Regions from separate parts of the Homo sapiens genome. Here region 2 is linked to region 1. A link means that fine-mapping ties the variant in region 1 to the expression of a gene that starts in the linked region. Tissue or cell type: whole blood. Region 1 holds a variant in brackets; the other region holds the start of a gene. All regions are shown on one strand. Distances are from middle to middle.

The links. PIP is the estimated chance that this variant, and not a neighbour inherited with it, causes the effect.
Region 2: it holds the start of NECAP1, and the variant in region 1 is fine-mapped to the expression of NECAP1 in whole blood (INTERVAL, PIP above 0.99).

The regions. Positions count from the first base shown.
Region 1 is chr12:8,058,575-8,066,721 of GRCh38, forward strand. C3AR1 (complement C3a receptor 1) reads right to left here and starts at 7,785. Exons shown (of 2, transcript NM_004054.4): 1 at 7,704-7,785; 2 at 1-1,621. The coding sequence starts at 1,611. The coding sequence ends at 163. The variant C/A (reference allele first, on the strand shown) is at 3,686.
Region 2 is chr12:8,078,530-8,086,713 of GRCh38, forward strand. It overlaps NECAP1 (NECAP endocytosis associated 1), which reads left to right and starts at 3,745. Exons shown (of 8, transcript NM_015509.4): 1 at 3,745-3,854. The coding sequence starts at 3,760. RefSeq lists enhancers at 3,007-4,206, 3,638-3,857, 3,928-3,987.

The DNA.
Region 1 (8,147 bases):
CTAGGTGATGCTGATGTCAATAGTCTGTGTACCGTTTGAGAACCGCTGGATTGATTCTTTGACAGTTTTTGAAGTCCGCTGCTCACCATATCACTTCATCCTCTTATAAACTTTCACTATGTGATTGCCTAAGAGCCCCTGCTTGTTGGCTGCTCCACATTTTCACACAGTTGTACTATTTCTTTCTGAAATGACATTGTTTGAGGGACAGTGGGTGGAACGTGTGAGCTCCTCACTGAAGGCTGCCTCCAGAATTCCCTGAATGGACTGCCTTGCTTTCTTCCTAAAATCTTTCCCCAAGAGGGCATAAAGGAAGGGATTAAAGCAACTATTGGCAGATGCTAGAGCAATGCATACATGATCCCAGGACATCAGAGTTTTCCCCAAGGGAGTTTCTGGGTCAGTAAGCAATGACAGGACTCCAAAAATGTGGTATGGAGTCCAGCAGACAAGAAAGACAGCCACCACCACCACGGCCACTCGAAAGGTTTTGCTCTGAGACTTGGCGAAGCGGCCCCTTTGCATTCGGAAGACAATGAAGCTGTAACAGGCTATCATGATAACAGAGGGCAGCAGGAAACCCACCACTAGCCTAGTGATCGTTATTGCCACGAGGGGTGTTGGCACTTGATCGTCATCTGTGAATTGGCCTAAATTGTAATAATCCTGGAAACCTTGTGGTAGCTCAGACTCGTAGAAGGAATTGCTAGAAGCGCTAGGGAACAGCTTTAAATGAGTAGAGAGAAAAGCATCAGAGTTATCCAGTGGGCTGGTTTCGTGATCTTCAATAGGAAACCCACTGGGGATTTTAGGTGAGACCACATCAGCAGGTTTAAATACATTAGAATACAGATTTTGACTTGTTAACCTAGCAGAACCCCTAGGGAGTGAATCTGCAGAAGGTCTTTGAAATGTTTGAGGTTGGAAGACAGTGGGGACTGTCCAAGGATGATCATTTGTTTGGAAAGAGGAAGGATCTAACCTATCATTCATTTCTCCAGGCGGCTGAACAATGTTTTCAAGAGACCTGTTTTCTAGTGGATCTCCATAAAAGTCTGGATAATCTAATGAGCTGGAGAGACCAAATTTGTAGCCACATCTATTATGGTTGTCTGTAGTGAAGATTTCCCGGTACACGAACACAGGAATGCACATCACAAAAGCCACCACCCAGATACATCCACAGATAGAGCAGGCCATCCCTACATTGCGATGATTCTGACACCAGATTGGCTTGAATACCACAAGACAGCGATCCAGGCTAATGGCAGTAAGCAGGAAGACACTGGCAAACATGTTGAGGACAATGATGGAGGGGATGAGCTTGCATAGGAACCTGCCGTAGGGCCACTGTCCCTGGAGAGCCAAGTGAGCCAGCGAGAAGGGCAAGGAGAGGCAGCAGAGGAGGTCCGCCAAGGTGAGGTGGAGGAACCAAATTGTGTTCACTGTCCGCTGCATCTTCAGGCCAGCCACCCACAGCACCAGCCCATTGCCTGGCAATCCCAGTAAAAAAGTAAGGCTGAGAATGACCATGGAGAGAATTACTGGGGGCTCATTCCATGGCTGTGAGAGTAGGTCAGTTGAATTGGTCTCAGCAGAGAAAGACGCCATTGCTAAACTTCTGCAAAAAGATGAAAAAAATGTTAAAACAAACAGTATCTTTTTGAAAATGCATACATATTCTTAGGATTCTAATCTTCCCACATAAAGATGTGGGATCATGAAACCAGAAGGTCCTCACGCTGTTTTAGTTTGCCTTCCTTCACCTCACACGGGACCACATAAAAGCATTCTCTGATAGACAATTATATTTATTTATTAATTTATTAATTATTTTTCAGACAGAGTCTTCCTCTGTCGCGCAGGCTGGAGTGCAGTGGATTGATTTCAGCTCACTGTAAGCTCCGCCTCCCGAGTTCAAGCGATTCTCCTGCCTCAGCCTCCAGAGTAGCTGGGATTACAGGCGTGCACCACCACGCCTGGCTAATTTTTGTATTTTTAGTAGAGACGGGGTTTTGCCATGTTGGCCAGGCTGGTCTTGAACTCCTGACCTCGGGTGATCTGCCTGCCTTGGCCTCCCAAAGTGCTGGGATTATAGGCATGAGCCACCATGCCCATCCTATGATAGACAATTTAAAATCTACTGTATTGATTTATGTGTGTATCAAAATCACAGCCTCATCTGGAAGTCCATATTAGTGTAAATTTCTCCTCTTTCTTGTACTTTCAATCTTGGTTTTTCCACTGGCTCCTTTCTTCACCCAGTGTGTTTAAAAATAAACAAATAAGCTAAATAAGTAAACACACAAAAATATCTGGACTGGAGGTCTCCAACCTGAGGTCACGAAAGGGTTTTAGGAAGTTCCATCACCACCTAAAATGATATGCAAAACTTCAACTTTACATATTCTCATTTCTCTGAGGGCAGAAGCTTCATCCACTCTCCCCACCAGATTTTCAGAGGACTCGCCGCCACAGAAAGAGGTACTCTAGACTCAGCGATGTCTTTTAGATACAACTCCATCTCCTTTTGCTTTCAAATTTTCCAAGAGTTGTTGGCCCTCTGCATTGACTTCCTCACTACCTATCATTTCTTTCTTATTTATTTGTGTTTTATGACCGTAACTTGGGAAAAGAGCTTTATTATTACAAAAGCAAAAAATATGCATGAAGAAAATTGGAAAATATAGACAAACAAAAAAGAAAATAAAAATATACTCACTAGTCAGTGATTATTATTTTAGCACCTGAATTTATATCCTCTTGACCTTTTTTTATGTGTGTGTGTGCATTTAGGTATACACATGCGTATCTTTAGACAGCAGGGGCTGTGATGGCTAGAAGCCTTCTAATATGTGGGACAGTGCTTCATTTATTTATTTATTATTATTATTATTATTATTTTTGAGACAGAATCTCCCTCCGTCATTCAGGCTGGAGTGCAGTGATACAATCTCGGCTCACTGCAGCCTCTGCCTCCCGGGTTCAAGCAATTATCGTGCCTCAGCCTCCTGAGTAGCTGGGACTGCAGTTGCCCACCAACGTACCAACTAATTTTTGTATTTTTAGCAGAGACAGGTTTTGCCATGTTGGCCAGGCTACTCTTGAACTGCTAGGCTCGAGTGATCCTCCCTCCTCTCCCTCCCAAAGTGCTGGGATTACAGGTGCGAGCCACCGCGCCTGGCCCTAACAAAAAAATTTTAATTGCCAAACACATGTATCATAACATTTACCATCTTCACCATTTTTAAGTACACAGTTCAGTAGTGTTTACCATATTCACGTTGTACAACCAATTTTCAGAACTTTTTCATCTTACAAAACTGAAAATGTGCTCAGGAAAGAATTCCCCATTTTCTCCTTTTCTCAGCCCCTGGCAATCACCATTGTACTTTCAATTTCTATGAATTCGACTACTTTAGATATCTGATCTAAGTGGAATCACACAGTATTTGTCTTTTTGTGTCTGGTGTATTTCACTTAGCATAATGTCTTCAAGCTTCCTCCGCGTTGTGGCATGGGTCAGAATTTTCTTTCTTTTTAAGGCTGAATAATATTCCATTGTAGGTCTATACTTCATTTTGTTTATCCAGTCATTCCACAGAGGACATCTGGATTGCTTTCACCTTTTGACTATTGTGAATTATGCATCAATGAACATGGGTGTAAATACATATTTTTTATA[C/A]ATTTTTTTCTTTTTTCAGTTAGCAGTCTCCACATTATACAATATGTACCATAAGGAATACCCGACCTTTATCTGTTTTGTTTCTGTTTGTAAAGATGGGGTCTTGCTATGTTGCTCAGGCTGGTCTCCAACTCCTGGGCTCTACTGATTCTTCCTCGGCCTCCCGAAGTGCTGAGATTACAGGCACGAACCACCATGCCCCCCCTTTTATATGATTATTTTTCAACTGTCCCTAAGACATCTTTTATAGCTGGCTTGTCCACGACAATATCTACTTCAGATCGCACTTTCTTCTTAAGTCTCTTAATTTAGCATAATTTCTCTTTTTCAAGGATACTGCTTTGTTTTGGGGCCTACGCCTACTGTTCTGAACACTAACTTCTTCTTTTTTTCTTTTTTCTTGAGATGGAGTTTCGCTCTTGTTGCCCACGCTGGAGTGCAGTGGCGCGATCTTGGCTCACTGCAACCTCCTCCTCCCGGGTTCAAGTGATTCTCCTGCCTCAGCCTCCCAGTAGCTGGGATTACAGGCATGCGCCACCATGCCCGGCTAATTTTTTTTTGTATTTTTAGTAGAGAACGGGGTTTCTCCATGTTGGCCAGGATGATGTTGATCTCCCGACCTCAGGCGATCCGCCCGCCTCGGCCTCCCAAAGTGTTGGGATTACAGGCGTGAGCCACCGCGCCCGGCCCTTTTTTTTTTTTTTTTTTTTTTTTTTGTGATGGAGTCTCGCTCTGTCTCCCAGGCTGGAGTGCAATGGTGCGATCTCGGCTCACTACAGCCTCCGCATCCCGGGTTTAAGCAATTCTTCTGCCTCAGCCTCCCGAGGAGCTGGGATTACAGGCGTGTACCACCACGCCCGGCTAATTTTTGTATTTTTAGTAGAGACGGGGTTTCACCATGTTAGCCAGGATGATCTTGATTTCCTGACCTGGTGATCCGCCCGCCTCGGCCTCCCAAAGTCCCGGGATTACAGATGTGAGCCACCAGGCCCGGCCGGCCACCAACTTCTTAATTCTTTGTAATGTATCTTCTGCTTCCATAATTCTGCTAAAATTACTTCTAAAAACCAAATCCAAACGTTTGTTTCTCAGTCACCTTCCACAATATGTGTCATTAGATACACTGACTTCTTAACACTCTCTTCTCTTGGCCTCTGTGATATTACCTTCCCCTAACTGTGAACATGCTCGTAAATGTACCCTGCTTTATAGCTTTCCTGAACAATTCACTATTCCAACTTAATGCCATTTTCCGTTCCATGGCTAATGCTGTTTACTTCTATCTGGAATTATGCCCTTCACCAAGTCTTCAGCTTCTTAATTTGTGTGTGTGCGCATGTTTGAACCTTTTTTTCATATTCTATATGCAATGACACATTTTATCTTGTACAATAATTATAATGGCTGTCTAATCTATTATTCTGGATTTAAACTTTATGATGGTAAAAAGGAGTCTTATTCATAAATGCTCATTTCACATAATTTAACATAATGCCTTATGAGACACCAAGGTTAAAGATTATGTGGAAAGGCTGGGCGCAGTGGCTCATGCCTGTAATCGCAGCACTTTGGGGGGCCGAGGGGAGAAGATCGCTTGGGGCTAGGAGTTCAAGACCAGCCTGGCTAACATGGCAAAATCCCATCTCTACCAAAAATACAAAAATTAGCTGGGTGTGGTAGCTCACACTTGTAATCCCAGCTACTTGGGAGGCTGAGGCACGAGAATCGCTTGAACTGGAGAGGTGGAGGTTGCAGTGAGCTGAGATTGCACCACTGCACTCCAGCCTGCATGACAAAGAGACTCTGTCTCAAAAGAAAAAAAAAGAAAAAAAAAATTACTTGAATAGATGGATGCCCATTTTGGGGGTTGACTTTTTTTTTCTTTTGCAATTACATCTAAAATTCTAATTTGTATCCATGTAATCCTTACCCAGGCCTCTTCCTTAATTCCCATGCTGTCCCTTTTAACTTTCTTTTTGTGAAATTCCTAATTTTTACTGGATAAAATAACATTTTACTTTTATAGAGGCTCAAAATATTTTTGTGACTTGAAAGTAGTTCTGCTGAGTCAGCCAAATATTGCCATAGGGCCTCATATGATTAGCAGAAGTTAAAATAGCAAGTCAACAAAATAATAAAAAAGAAGACATGGGCTGGGCACAGTGGCTCACACCTGTTATCCCAGCACTTTGGGAAGCCAAGGCAGGCAGATCACCTGAGGTCAGTTTGAGACCAGCCTATCCAACATGGAGAAACTCTGTCTCTACTAAAAATACAAAATTAGGTGGGCATGGTGGCACATGCCTGTAATCCCAGCTACTCAGGAGGCTGAGGCAGGAGAATCGCTTGAACCTGGGAGGCAGAGGTTGTGGTGAGCCGAGGTTGCGCCACTACACTCCAGCCTGGGCAACAAAAGCAAAACTCCATCTCAAAAAAAAAAAAAGAAGAAGAAATTATTCTCATTCCCCTTTCCATGGCCTTGTCTACTCAGATATTTAAATACTATCACGGTACCCCCCTAAAATATTGAGAGAAGAATAGAGTCATGGGATGCTAGGGCTGAAAGAAAACTTGGTAATCATCTCTCCTCTCCTCATTTTGTTGTTGTTGTTGTTGTTTGTTTGTTTGTTTGTTTGTAGAGATAGGGTCTTGCTATGTTGCCCAAGCTGCTCTCAAACTCCTGGACTCAAGCAATCCTCCCATGTTGGCCTCACAGTGTGCTGGGGTTACAGACATGAGCCACTGTGCCCAGCCTACGTTTTCTCTGCTTTTATTTCTCAAGTTTGACAGTGAAACTCAGCAAATTAGATTACAAGCATATAATCATTACTAGGGAGGTTCTTGGATTTCAGGTCCGAGGACTGTTAGGCAAATGCTGTTTTTACTACCAAAAAAAAAAAAAAATCACATTAAAAAAAAAAAGATATATGGTATTGCTAATAAAGGGGAAGCTGCCGAGAACTGCATGAACTGAAGTAGCAGGGACTGCAAACAGCAAAATTTTAATAAAAATAGAGTTATCTGTCATGAGCTATATGTTAAATATTGTTATTATCTGTTTTGAAATGAAAGTATGTAGGAGTCAGGGATTAAAAGTCCTTTAGAACAAGGCTGGGTGTGGTGGCTCACGCCTGTAATCCCAGCACTTTGGGAGGCAGAGGCGGGTAGATCACCTGAGGTCAGGAGTTTGAGACCAACCTGGCCAACATGGTGGAACCCTGTCTCTACTAAAAATACAAAAAAATTTAACTGGGTGTGGTAGCACGTGCCTGCAATCCCACCTACTCAGGAGGCTGAGGCAGGAGAATCGCTTGAACCTGGGAGGCGGAGGTTGCAGTGAGCTGAGATCATGCTACTGTACTCCAGCCTGGGCAACAGAGTGAGACTCTGTCTCAAAAAAAAAAAAAAAAAAAAAAAGTCCTGCAGAGCAAGATTACTTTTTACATTTCTTCAAGTTAATTTGGCTAAAAATACCATACCTTTATGTGTTTAAGATTAGTAGAGGATTAAAAAAAATTATTACTAAGTTGACCAGCCGTAATTTAAAGGTAATTAATATCCTGAAACTAAAATTCCACTGTGATAGAGAAAGAAAAGTGGACCCCAGAATCAAATTGTAGTAATAGGATAACAGAGTCAGTAGCAATAAGGAATGGGCAAAAGAATAAAAAAAAGAAAGAGGAAATGGAAAGGGAAAAAAAGTGCAATCAATTATTTGAAAAACAAATTAATGGGGACAGCTGGAATCAAAGTTCAGGGTGAAATACATAGCCAATTCAAAGAAAGGAAAGAAATGATGTAAAAATTCACTATTAATTCCACTATGAAAATATTAAAAGCAAAGACAAATGCAATGTGGAATATTTAGAAAAAGGAAGTTAGACATAGAGATAAGATAAAAGAATTCAAAGTCAGAGAAGGAATAGGGGAAATAGAAGATAGTGACACTCAAACTCATTACCTATAATGAGCAAAACAGGCTAAGCACAAGTCATCAGGTAGGTCTAGGTTTTCTTACCAAAAAACTGAGACAGTAGCTGAAGGCTTCAGCACCTGGATGTCTCCACGAGTCCTGTCTGGTCCCCACACTTAGCCACAGTGAAGTCATGAAGTATGGCAAGAAAATTTGCTGAGCTTTCTCTTCTTCTGTTCTCTCTCTGTTTCCGGCAATAAGTTAAGTCTTATGCTCTAGACCACTATCTGACCTCACAGGAAGAGTTTCAAAGTGAGTCATTTCTAAATGGCTTAGAAAGGCAAAGCAGGAAAACAGAAGTAGGAGTTTATAATCCTGAGACATTTTCTGCAGCACACAGAGAATGGTTAGAGAGAGGGTACCTCTGTACATAGGGTTCAACTTTATAGGTTTTGTTTAGAAATGAAAAAAAAAAGACTCTATGAGATGTGAGGGTTGGAGTGGGGAGTGGTTGGGGAGGAATGACCTGAATAAACTCATTTAATTAAT
Region 2 (8,184 bases), 20 kb after region 1:
TCTACTCAGCCCAGAACCTGTGAGCTGTGTAGCTACTACCCCCCGGTGGTGGGCAAAGATAAGTTCGAGACAAGACATTTTTAATTTTTTTATTTTAGTTTATTTTTTTTTGATACGGAGTCTCATTCAGTAGCCCAGGCTGGAGTGCAGTGGCATGATCTTGACTCACTGCAACCTCCGTCTCCTGGGTTCAAGCAATTCTCCTGCCTTAGCCTCCCAAGTAGCTGGCATTACAGGCATGCACCACTATGACCAGCTAGTTTTTGTATTTTCAGTAGAGACAGGGTTTCAACATGTTAGCCAGGCTGGTCTTGAACTCCTGACCTCAAGTGATCTGCCTGCCTCAGCCTCCCAAGGTGCTGAGGTTACAGGCGTGAGCCACTGTGCCGGCCCAAGACATTTTTAATTATTTTGATTGGGAAAGAACAAATCATCCCTGTTAAGGCAGGCTGAAATGATCATTCATTTAGCAAATAAACATACAGAGTTCTTACTATAGTCTGAAAACTGTGCTAGATACTGGGAAAACACAAACCTGTTTCTTTCCCTTGGAAAACAGAGATGCCAACAAGCAGTTGAATGCAATGTGCTAAGAACTAAAACAGCTGTACAAATGTTGTGGGAGCATAGAGGAGGCAGTTACCAGTTCTATTTAGAGAAGTTGAGGAAAACTTCTGAGATAAATTGATATTTAGATTAGATCTAAAGGCATCTTACCAAGGAATGAACGGGAAGTGCATTTCAGTCTGGACAAATATGTTCAGCATGAATAAAAATGGCATGTATGGAAAATTATGGCAATGTGATCAGTTAAGCTAGAGAAGACATCGTGGGTGAGAGTGAGGAAGACTGTATTTTTTTCTGTTTCTGTTGAGATGAAGCAAGAGAAGGGAAATTTAAATTTATATAAAGAAAAAACATGGTTAAGTAAGGGTTTTTTTTTTTTTTTTTTTTTAGGTGAAAGGACTTGAATATACTTACATGGTGAGGGAAAGGGGTGAATGGAAAATGAGTTTTAAGATACAGGAAAGAAAGGAGATAACTGATTAACCAGGTCCCTGAGGAGATTGGTCCCTGAGGAGAATCCAGGGCACACACAAGTGGATAGGAGAAAGAATAGATGAAGATGCAGATAGGAGTATGAATAGGGTGTCATTAAGTTGAGAGAGTTCACACAAACTTTATTTTCTTAGGGAAGTAGTAAGATGTTTTACCTGTCAAGAAAGAAAAAGAGAAGACTTAGAGTTGAAGGCCTGAAAGGGCAGCAAAATTTGGAACAACCATTAAAGGGAATGAAAATAAAAACTAGCAATGGCAAATCTGGGTGTTAAGGGCAAAGCTGAGACTCAAACCCATAAACTTTTAGGGACACCAATCTTTATAATTGTGTGATTTGCTTTTGGAGAATGATGGAGGGAGATGGTTGGAATATATAAGACTGGAGTCTTTTGGGTTGGCTGTGATGGAAAGACAAAGAGGAAAGGAAACTTAAGGATGCTGGCAAGAGAACTGTTGAAACAAGGAGATGGGAGGAATAAAGAGAAGGCTAACAATGTGCAGAACATGAAGAAGAACAGGTGAGGTAGAAAAGAGAGGTAAAGATAGTTAGAATTTATGTCAAGAGATTGTATGGCTAGGAAGAGTTAACTATATGGGCTTTGAAATCTCTAAAAGATTTGGGAGAAGAGGAAGAGTATAAACTAGTAAGAAGGTGAACCAGAAGCCAGAATCCTCCAAAAATGATTGCCAGTGATAACACAGAACAGAGAAAAAAAAAGAGGTACAATGTGGTGTAGTCATATGACCTAGGCTTCAGATGAGATCATAGGGTCAGAAATAAGGAACAACAAGTAATAAACCACTTTTCTGTCTTTATTTTTCTTTTAACATGTATTCAGTGACAATAATAGCTATATAAATCTTAAACAACAGAGAAATATATGGAGGAGAAAATAAGTTTCTTTCCCCCACTTAGCCTTATATCCTTTGAAAGCCTTCTCAATGCATTTACATGCATGCATATATAATTTTGGGGTGTTTCGACAAAAGTTGATAATGCTGTATGTTTTTTGCAGTTGGCTTTAAAAAATCTTGGATCTCTTTCAATGGCTAACCCTTTAGTTCAAAACATCTCATAGTAATAGATATACCATTAACCATTTCCCATTGATAGATGGTCATTTTGTTTCCATTTTTTTCACTATTACAAACAATGCTGTAGTATTATTGTACATACTTTTTTGTGCATATAAGGATTTCTCTACAATATTTATTAGTGAAACTGCTAAATTGAAGATTACGTCCAATTAATATTTTGATAAATTCTGTTAATTTCCCTTTTAAAAATGCCGTGCCAATTTACATTCCTGCCAACAGTGTATGAGATTAGACTGTTCCTCACGTCCTCGCCAGGGATAAATGTGGTAATTCTTTTTGAAATTTAAGATATCACTTTCCAAGGTGGAGCAGACAAATTAGAGGCAGGTTTGCTTTTTTTTTTTTTCTCATTAAACTTTTTTAATGGGTCTCAAAATTCTGTGACAAATTTTTGGATGTTTCCATTAAAAAGTACTGATTTAAAAAACTAATAACTTAAAACTGCCACACGCAAAAAAGAAAACCAGTGGTCCACAAAACATTCTCCTTTCCTTCTGAAGAAGAAAACCAGTGGTCCACAAAACATTCTCCTTTCCTTCTGAAGGTTTTACGATGCATTGTTTTCATTAACCAGTCTTTTACTACTGAACTTAAATGGCCAGTTGAAACAAACAGTTCTGAGACCGTTCTTCCACCACTGATTAAGAGTGGGGTGGCAGGTATTAGGGATGATATTCATCTAGCCTTCTGAGCTTTCTGGGCAGACTTGGTGACCTTGCCAGCTCCAGCAGCGGTGAAGACTGCTGCTGTTGTAATGAGGCAGGCTTGAGTTTCTGTCTCAGTTTTGCCACTTGCTATCTGTACTGTCAGGGTGTTGTGGTTAAGTTTACCTTTGGGGCGCAGAAAAAGCATATTTATGGTGAGAGTTCGGTAGCATTTATCATTATAATAGAACTGGGAGCTAATATAGGCCATTAGATAGTTCATTATGCTTCCGATTTTATCAGGAATTGGGTTGATCCCACGTATAGTCTATTTAACAGGATCAAATTTTCCAAAAAGATAATCGGAATACACGCCGAAAGTGTGGCAAAACATTTTAACAGGTGTCGTCCTGAAAAATCGGAGATAAAGAGTGTAAGGCACTAAATCAAGTTGGGTGTTTTCAGCGTTTAGACTCTGGAGAGTTGAAATCCACGGTGTCTATGACCAGATCATACATCATTCTCTGCAGGTACCTCGTCTGGGACTACCGGCTGGAGGTTGCCTCTTTTCTGCCAGGAGACTACAGTTAGGAAGTGACTCCTGTAAGAAAATCCGTCACGATTCAATATGGTCCTCGTCCTCGTAGGACACTCCAGGCACCTGCCTAGAGTAAGATGGCGCTTTTCGTAAGCACCTCTCCAGGACAGAGATTTCCATAACGAGAGTCACGCACTTGCAGGCCATCTTTGCCATTATCCAAGACGGTGAGCCGTGCAGCCTCATCGTTTCCAGGTTTCAATATGGCTCCCCGCGTCACCGAAAAGGTTAATCTCAGAAACTAACTTGAACTCGCGCGGAAGTGACGCAACAGAAGTTGTCGCGCTTTGCATCTCCGCCTCCCGTGCTCCGCCTCCGGTCTTACGTTTCGCCCCCGGCAGCGCCGACAGCGGACCCAAGATGGCGACCGAGTTGGAGTACGAGTCTGTGCTGTGTGTGAAGCCAGACGTCAGCGTCTACCGGATTCCGCCCCGGGCCTCCAACCGCGGTTACAGGTACTAACCCCGAGGCGCTGCCGCACACGCGTACTCTGTCGCAGATGACAGCTTCCTTCTCAGCTAGCACGCTGTCCGTCCCTGCCACTACTACCTCTGTATTGTCACCTTGCTAGCCTCCCTACCTGGGTTGTCATCTCCCTGACCACCTGCTCCATCTCCACTCTGGACTGTCATCACCATATTTCTGCCGTTTTTTTTTTTGTTTTGTTTTTTATTAAATTACCACTCTGCGTTATTCCACTCTGCCTCTCCCGTAATCCCCTGGGGCACCCATCTGCTCCCCATCATGCACTTTCAGTCGTGCTTGCTCCATTGCCAGTCCCCTTTCATTCGCTCTTCCCTGCGTCCTTCAGCTTATCATCCTCATCCTTTCTCTCTCTCTCTCTCTCACACACACACACACACACACACACACACACACACACACACACCTTTCCAGTTCCCCATGCACATTTATGGGTAATCGTGTTGCTTGCCACTCTGGATTATCTGATTTATTTTTTGTACTGTTGTCAATTTCGTCACCAACTGTCATCATCCACCATTCGGTTTTTCCTTCAGCAGTTTTACCAGTGAGCAAAGGTTATGATCATAAGCTTTACAACGGTTGTTCATTCTGTTTCTTCTCATTGTATTTTCTTGATGATTATATAGTATTTTCTGTCTTCCTTCCCTACCTCCCTTCTTAACCTCTCCTACACCTTTTCCCTCCAAAGTTGAGGCAGCATTTTTCTCTGTTGGGCCTAACTACCTACCTTGTAATCCAATGACTGTGAGGTTCTGAGGATGCTATAGGACATTATGTAGTTGAAAGACAGTTCACTGGGCTTCATGTTAAACCATATGAGTGTGAGCCCTTTCCAAGCCTCAATTTTCTCATCTGTAAAATAGAAAAAAAAACCTGTTAGTGATGATACCTGCGCTCTTATAATGTGCTTAACAAGGGTTTTTGGGAGAGTAAAATTAAATCATATAATGGATGTGAAAGAATGTAGGAAATGCAATAAAGCAGTTACAAATACTATTTGTTTGTTCTTTTTTTTTTTTTTTTTTTTTTTTTTGAGATGTAGTCTCACTTTGTTGCCCAGGCCGGAGCGCAATGGCTCAATCTCAGCTCACTGCAACCTCCGCCTCCTGGGTTCAAGCGATTCTCCTGCTTCAGCTTCCTGAATAGTTGGGATTACACGCATGCACCACCACACCTGGCTAATTTTTGTATTTTGAGTAGAGATGGGGTTTCACCAAGTTGGCCAGGCTGGTCTTGAACTCCTGACCTTGTGATCTGCCCACCTTGGCCTCCCATAGTACTGGGATTACAGGCGTGACACCACGCCCAGCCGTCGTTTTTTTTTTTTTTTTTTTTTGTTAGAGAGGCAGGGTCTCGTTCTATCATCCAGGCTGGAGTGCAAGTGGTGCAATCACAGCTCACGGCAGCTGTGTACTCCTGGGCACAAGGGATCCTCCTACCTCAGCCTCCCAAGTTGCTAGGGCTACAGGCATTGCCTCACAATGCCTGGCTAATTTTTAAATTTTTTTGTGTAGACAGGATCTTGATATATTTCCCAGGCTGGTCTCGAACTCCTGGCCTTAAGTGATTCTCCTGCCACAGCCTCCCAAAGTGTTGAAATTACAGGTGTGGGCCACTGCACCTGGCCAAGATACTGTTCTTATTCTTCTCTCTGACCCACATCATCATTGTGATTTTTCCTCCTGGCATTTATCATTACCTTGGCTGAAAAGTTACCCTCTCCTTATGTCTGTTATTTTGCCCCTTACTGGCGTTTTATTCATCATGAATCAATATTTTTATGCTTGCTGACCTGTGCGCTGGGCCCTGTGGGTTGCACCTTTGGCAAAGAGGTAGCAGTTCTGTTTTTAATAAGCTTTTAGTTGGACCCCAAACTGACCCTAAGTAGAAATCAACATGCTTTTAGATGGTAGTTACAGGTACTATATGAGTCACTTAAACATCACCTTCTTTGGGAGGCCCTATGTGACCCTTCCATTCTGGTTTAGATATGCACCCTGTGTGCTTCCATAGCACCTTTTTCTTTTTCTTTTTTACTTTAAGTTCTGGGATACATGTGCAGAATGTGCAGGTTTGTTACATAGGTATGCATGTGCCATGGTGGTTTGCTGCACCTATCAACCTGTCATCCTCGCCCCTCCCCCGAGAGGCCCCAGTGTGTGTTGTTCCCCTCCCTGTGCCCATGCGTTCTCACTGTTCAACTCCCACTTGTGAGTGAGAACATGTGGTGTTTGGTTTTCTGTTCCTGCATAGCACTTTATTCTTATCTCTATTCCAGGGCTCTTCATTTTGTATTGTAATGGATTACAGTGGATTGTACAATGGATTGTTTAGTCTCCTTTTTTCTCCAGGCTAGACTGTGAACAACTTGAGATCTTTTTAACTTTATATTCCCAGGGTCTAGCACAGTATCTGGTACACTTTGGGCACCCTGTAAATGTTGACTGAAAGAAGAAATCAGTAGATTACACAGAGAAACCTAATCACATAAAGTGGCATTGATTGAACTGTTAAATAAGGTCAAATAGCTCATTACTTCCAACTTTAGGAGTTAAGACTCCTAAAGGATATGATACATATTGAAGTGGGATTATATTCTTTTTCTTGAAGTTTTTTTTTTTTTGAGATGGAGTCTGGCTGTGTTGCCCAGGCTGGAGTGCGCTGGCGCAATCTCAGCTCGCCACAACCTCCGCCTCCCCGGTTCAAGTGATTTTCCTGCCTCAGCCTCCCAAGTAGCTGGGACTACAGGCACGTGCCACTATGCCCAGCTAATTTTTGTATATTTAGTAGAGACGGGGTTTCACTGTGTTGGCCAGGCTGGTCTCAAACTCTTGACCTCGTGATCCGCCTGCCTTGGCCTCCCAAAGTGCTGGGATTACAGGCGTGAGCCACCGCACCCGGCCTACTTCAAGCTTTTTAAAACACCTCCCCTCTCACCCATCTTCTCTATCTTCACTTCTTAGTTTTCCACAACCTTTATACTTACATCAGTTAACTGCACTGAGCCATTAAAGCAGTTTCTTAATTTTCCTCTTTTTCCTGTTATCCTTCTGTGTTTTCCATGTCTACTGGCATTTTTTATCCTCCAAGAGGCACCTTATCATCAATCACTTTTTTAGTACAGCACATGAAGAGAGCGGAATTAAGTTTGAATAACGATATTTATTTGCTGGGTTACCTTTGGCAAATCACCACTTTTGAATGTTAGTTTCTTCATTTGTAAAAATGACTATAACAATACTTACCTTGTAGGATCCTCTCACTTAATCTTCTTTTTTTTTTTTTTTTTTTTTTTTTTTTTGTTGTTGAGACAGAGTCTCGCTCTGTCACCCAGGCTGGCGTACAATGGTGTGATCATGGCTCACTGCAATCTGTGCCTCCCAGATTCAACTGATTCTCGTGCCTCAGCCTCCTGAGTAGTTGAGATTACAGATGTGCACTGCCATGCTTGGCTAATTTTTTGTATTTTTAGTAGAGATGGGGTTTCACCATGTTGGCCAGGCTGGTCTTGAACTCCTGGCCTCAGGCAATCCACCCACCTCAACCTCCCAAAGTGCTGGGATTACAGGCATGAGCCACTGCGCCTGGCCCTTTCACTTAATTTTCACGAGAATGGGCATAATGCCTGGCACATAATAAATGCTTGATAAATGCTGGTTTTCTTTTTGTTTGCATAATCTTTCTTATTTACCAGAACCCACTTTATATTATAAGCAGGATTTATTCTCTAGGCTGACATTAAAGGACAAACTGGGCTTTTTAGAAAGCAGGAGGAATTTTTCCTTTGAGTGACTGGTAAGATTAGAGAGAATAATTGATTTTAATTCACCTAGTGTAAGCTGTTCGTTCCCAGACTTTCACTGACCAGACTTCTAGACTATGGGAAGGAAAATTTGGGTTGACAAGAAACTTATCAGGCTGAGTGCGGTGGCTCATATCTGTAATCCCAGGACTTTGGGAGGCCGAGGCGCACGGATCACTTAAGGTCAGGAGTTCCAGACCAGCCTGGCCAACATGGTGAAACCCCGTCTCTACAAAAATACAAAAAACTTAGCCAGCCGTGGTGGCGCACACCTGTAGTCCCAGCTACCTGGGAGGCTGAGGCAGTAGAATTGTTTGAACCCGGGAGGCGGAGGTTGCAATGAGCTGAGATCATGCCACTGCTCTCCAGCCTAGGCGACAGAGCAGGACTGCGTCTCAAAACAAACAAAAAGGAAACTTACAAATGCTTAGAAAACAATCTGGGTGCGGTGGCTCACTCCTGTAATCCCAGCACTTGGGGAGGCCAAGGCGGGCGGA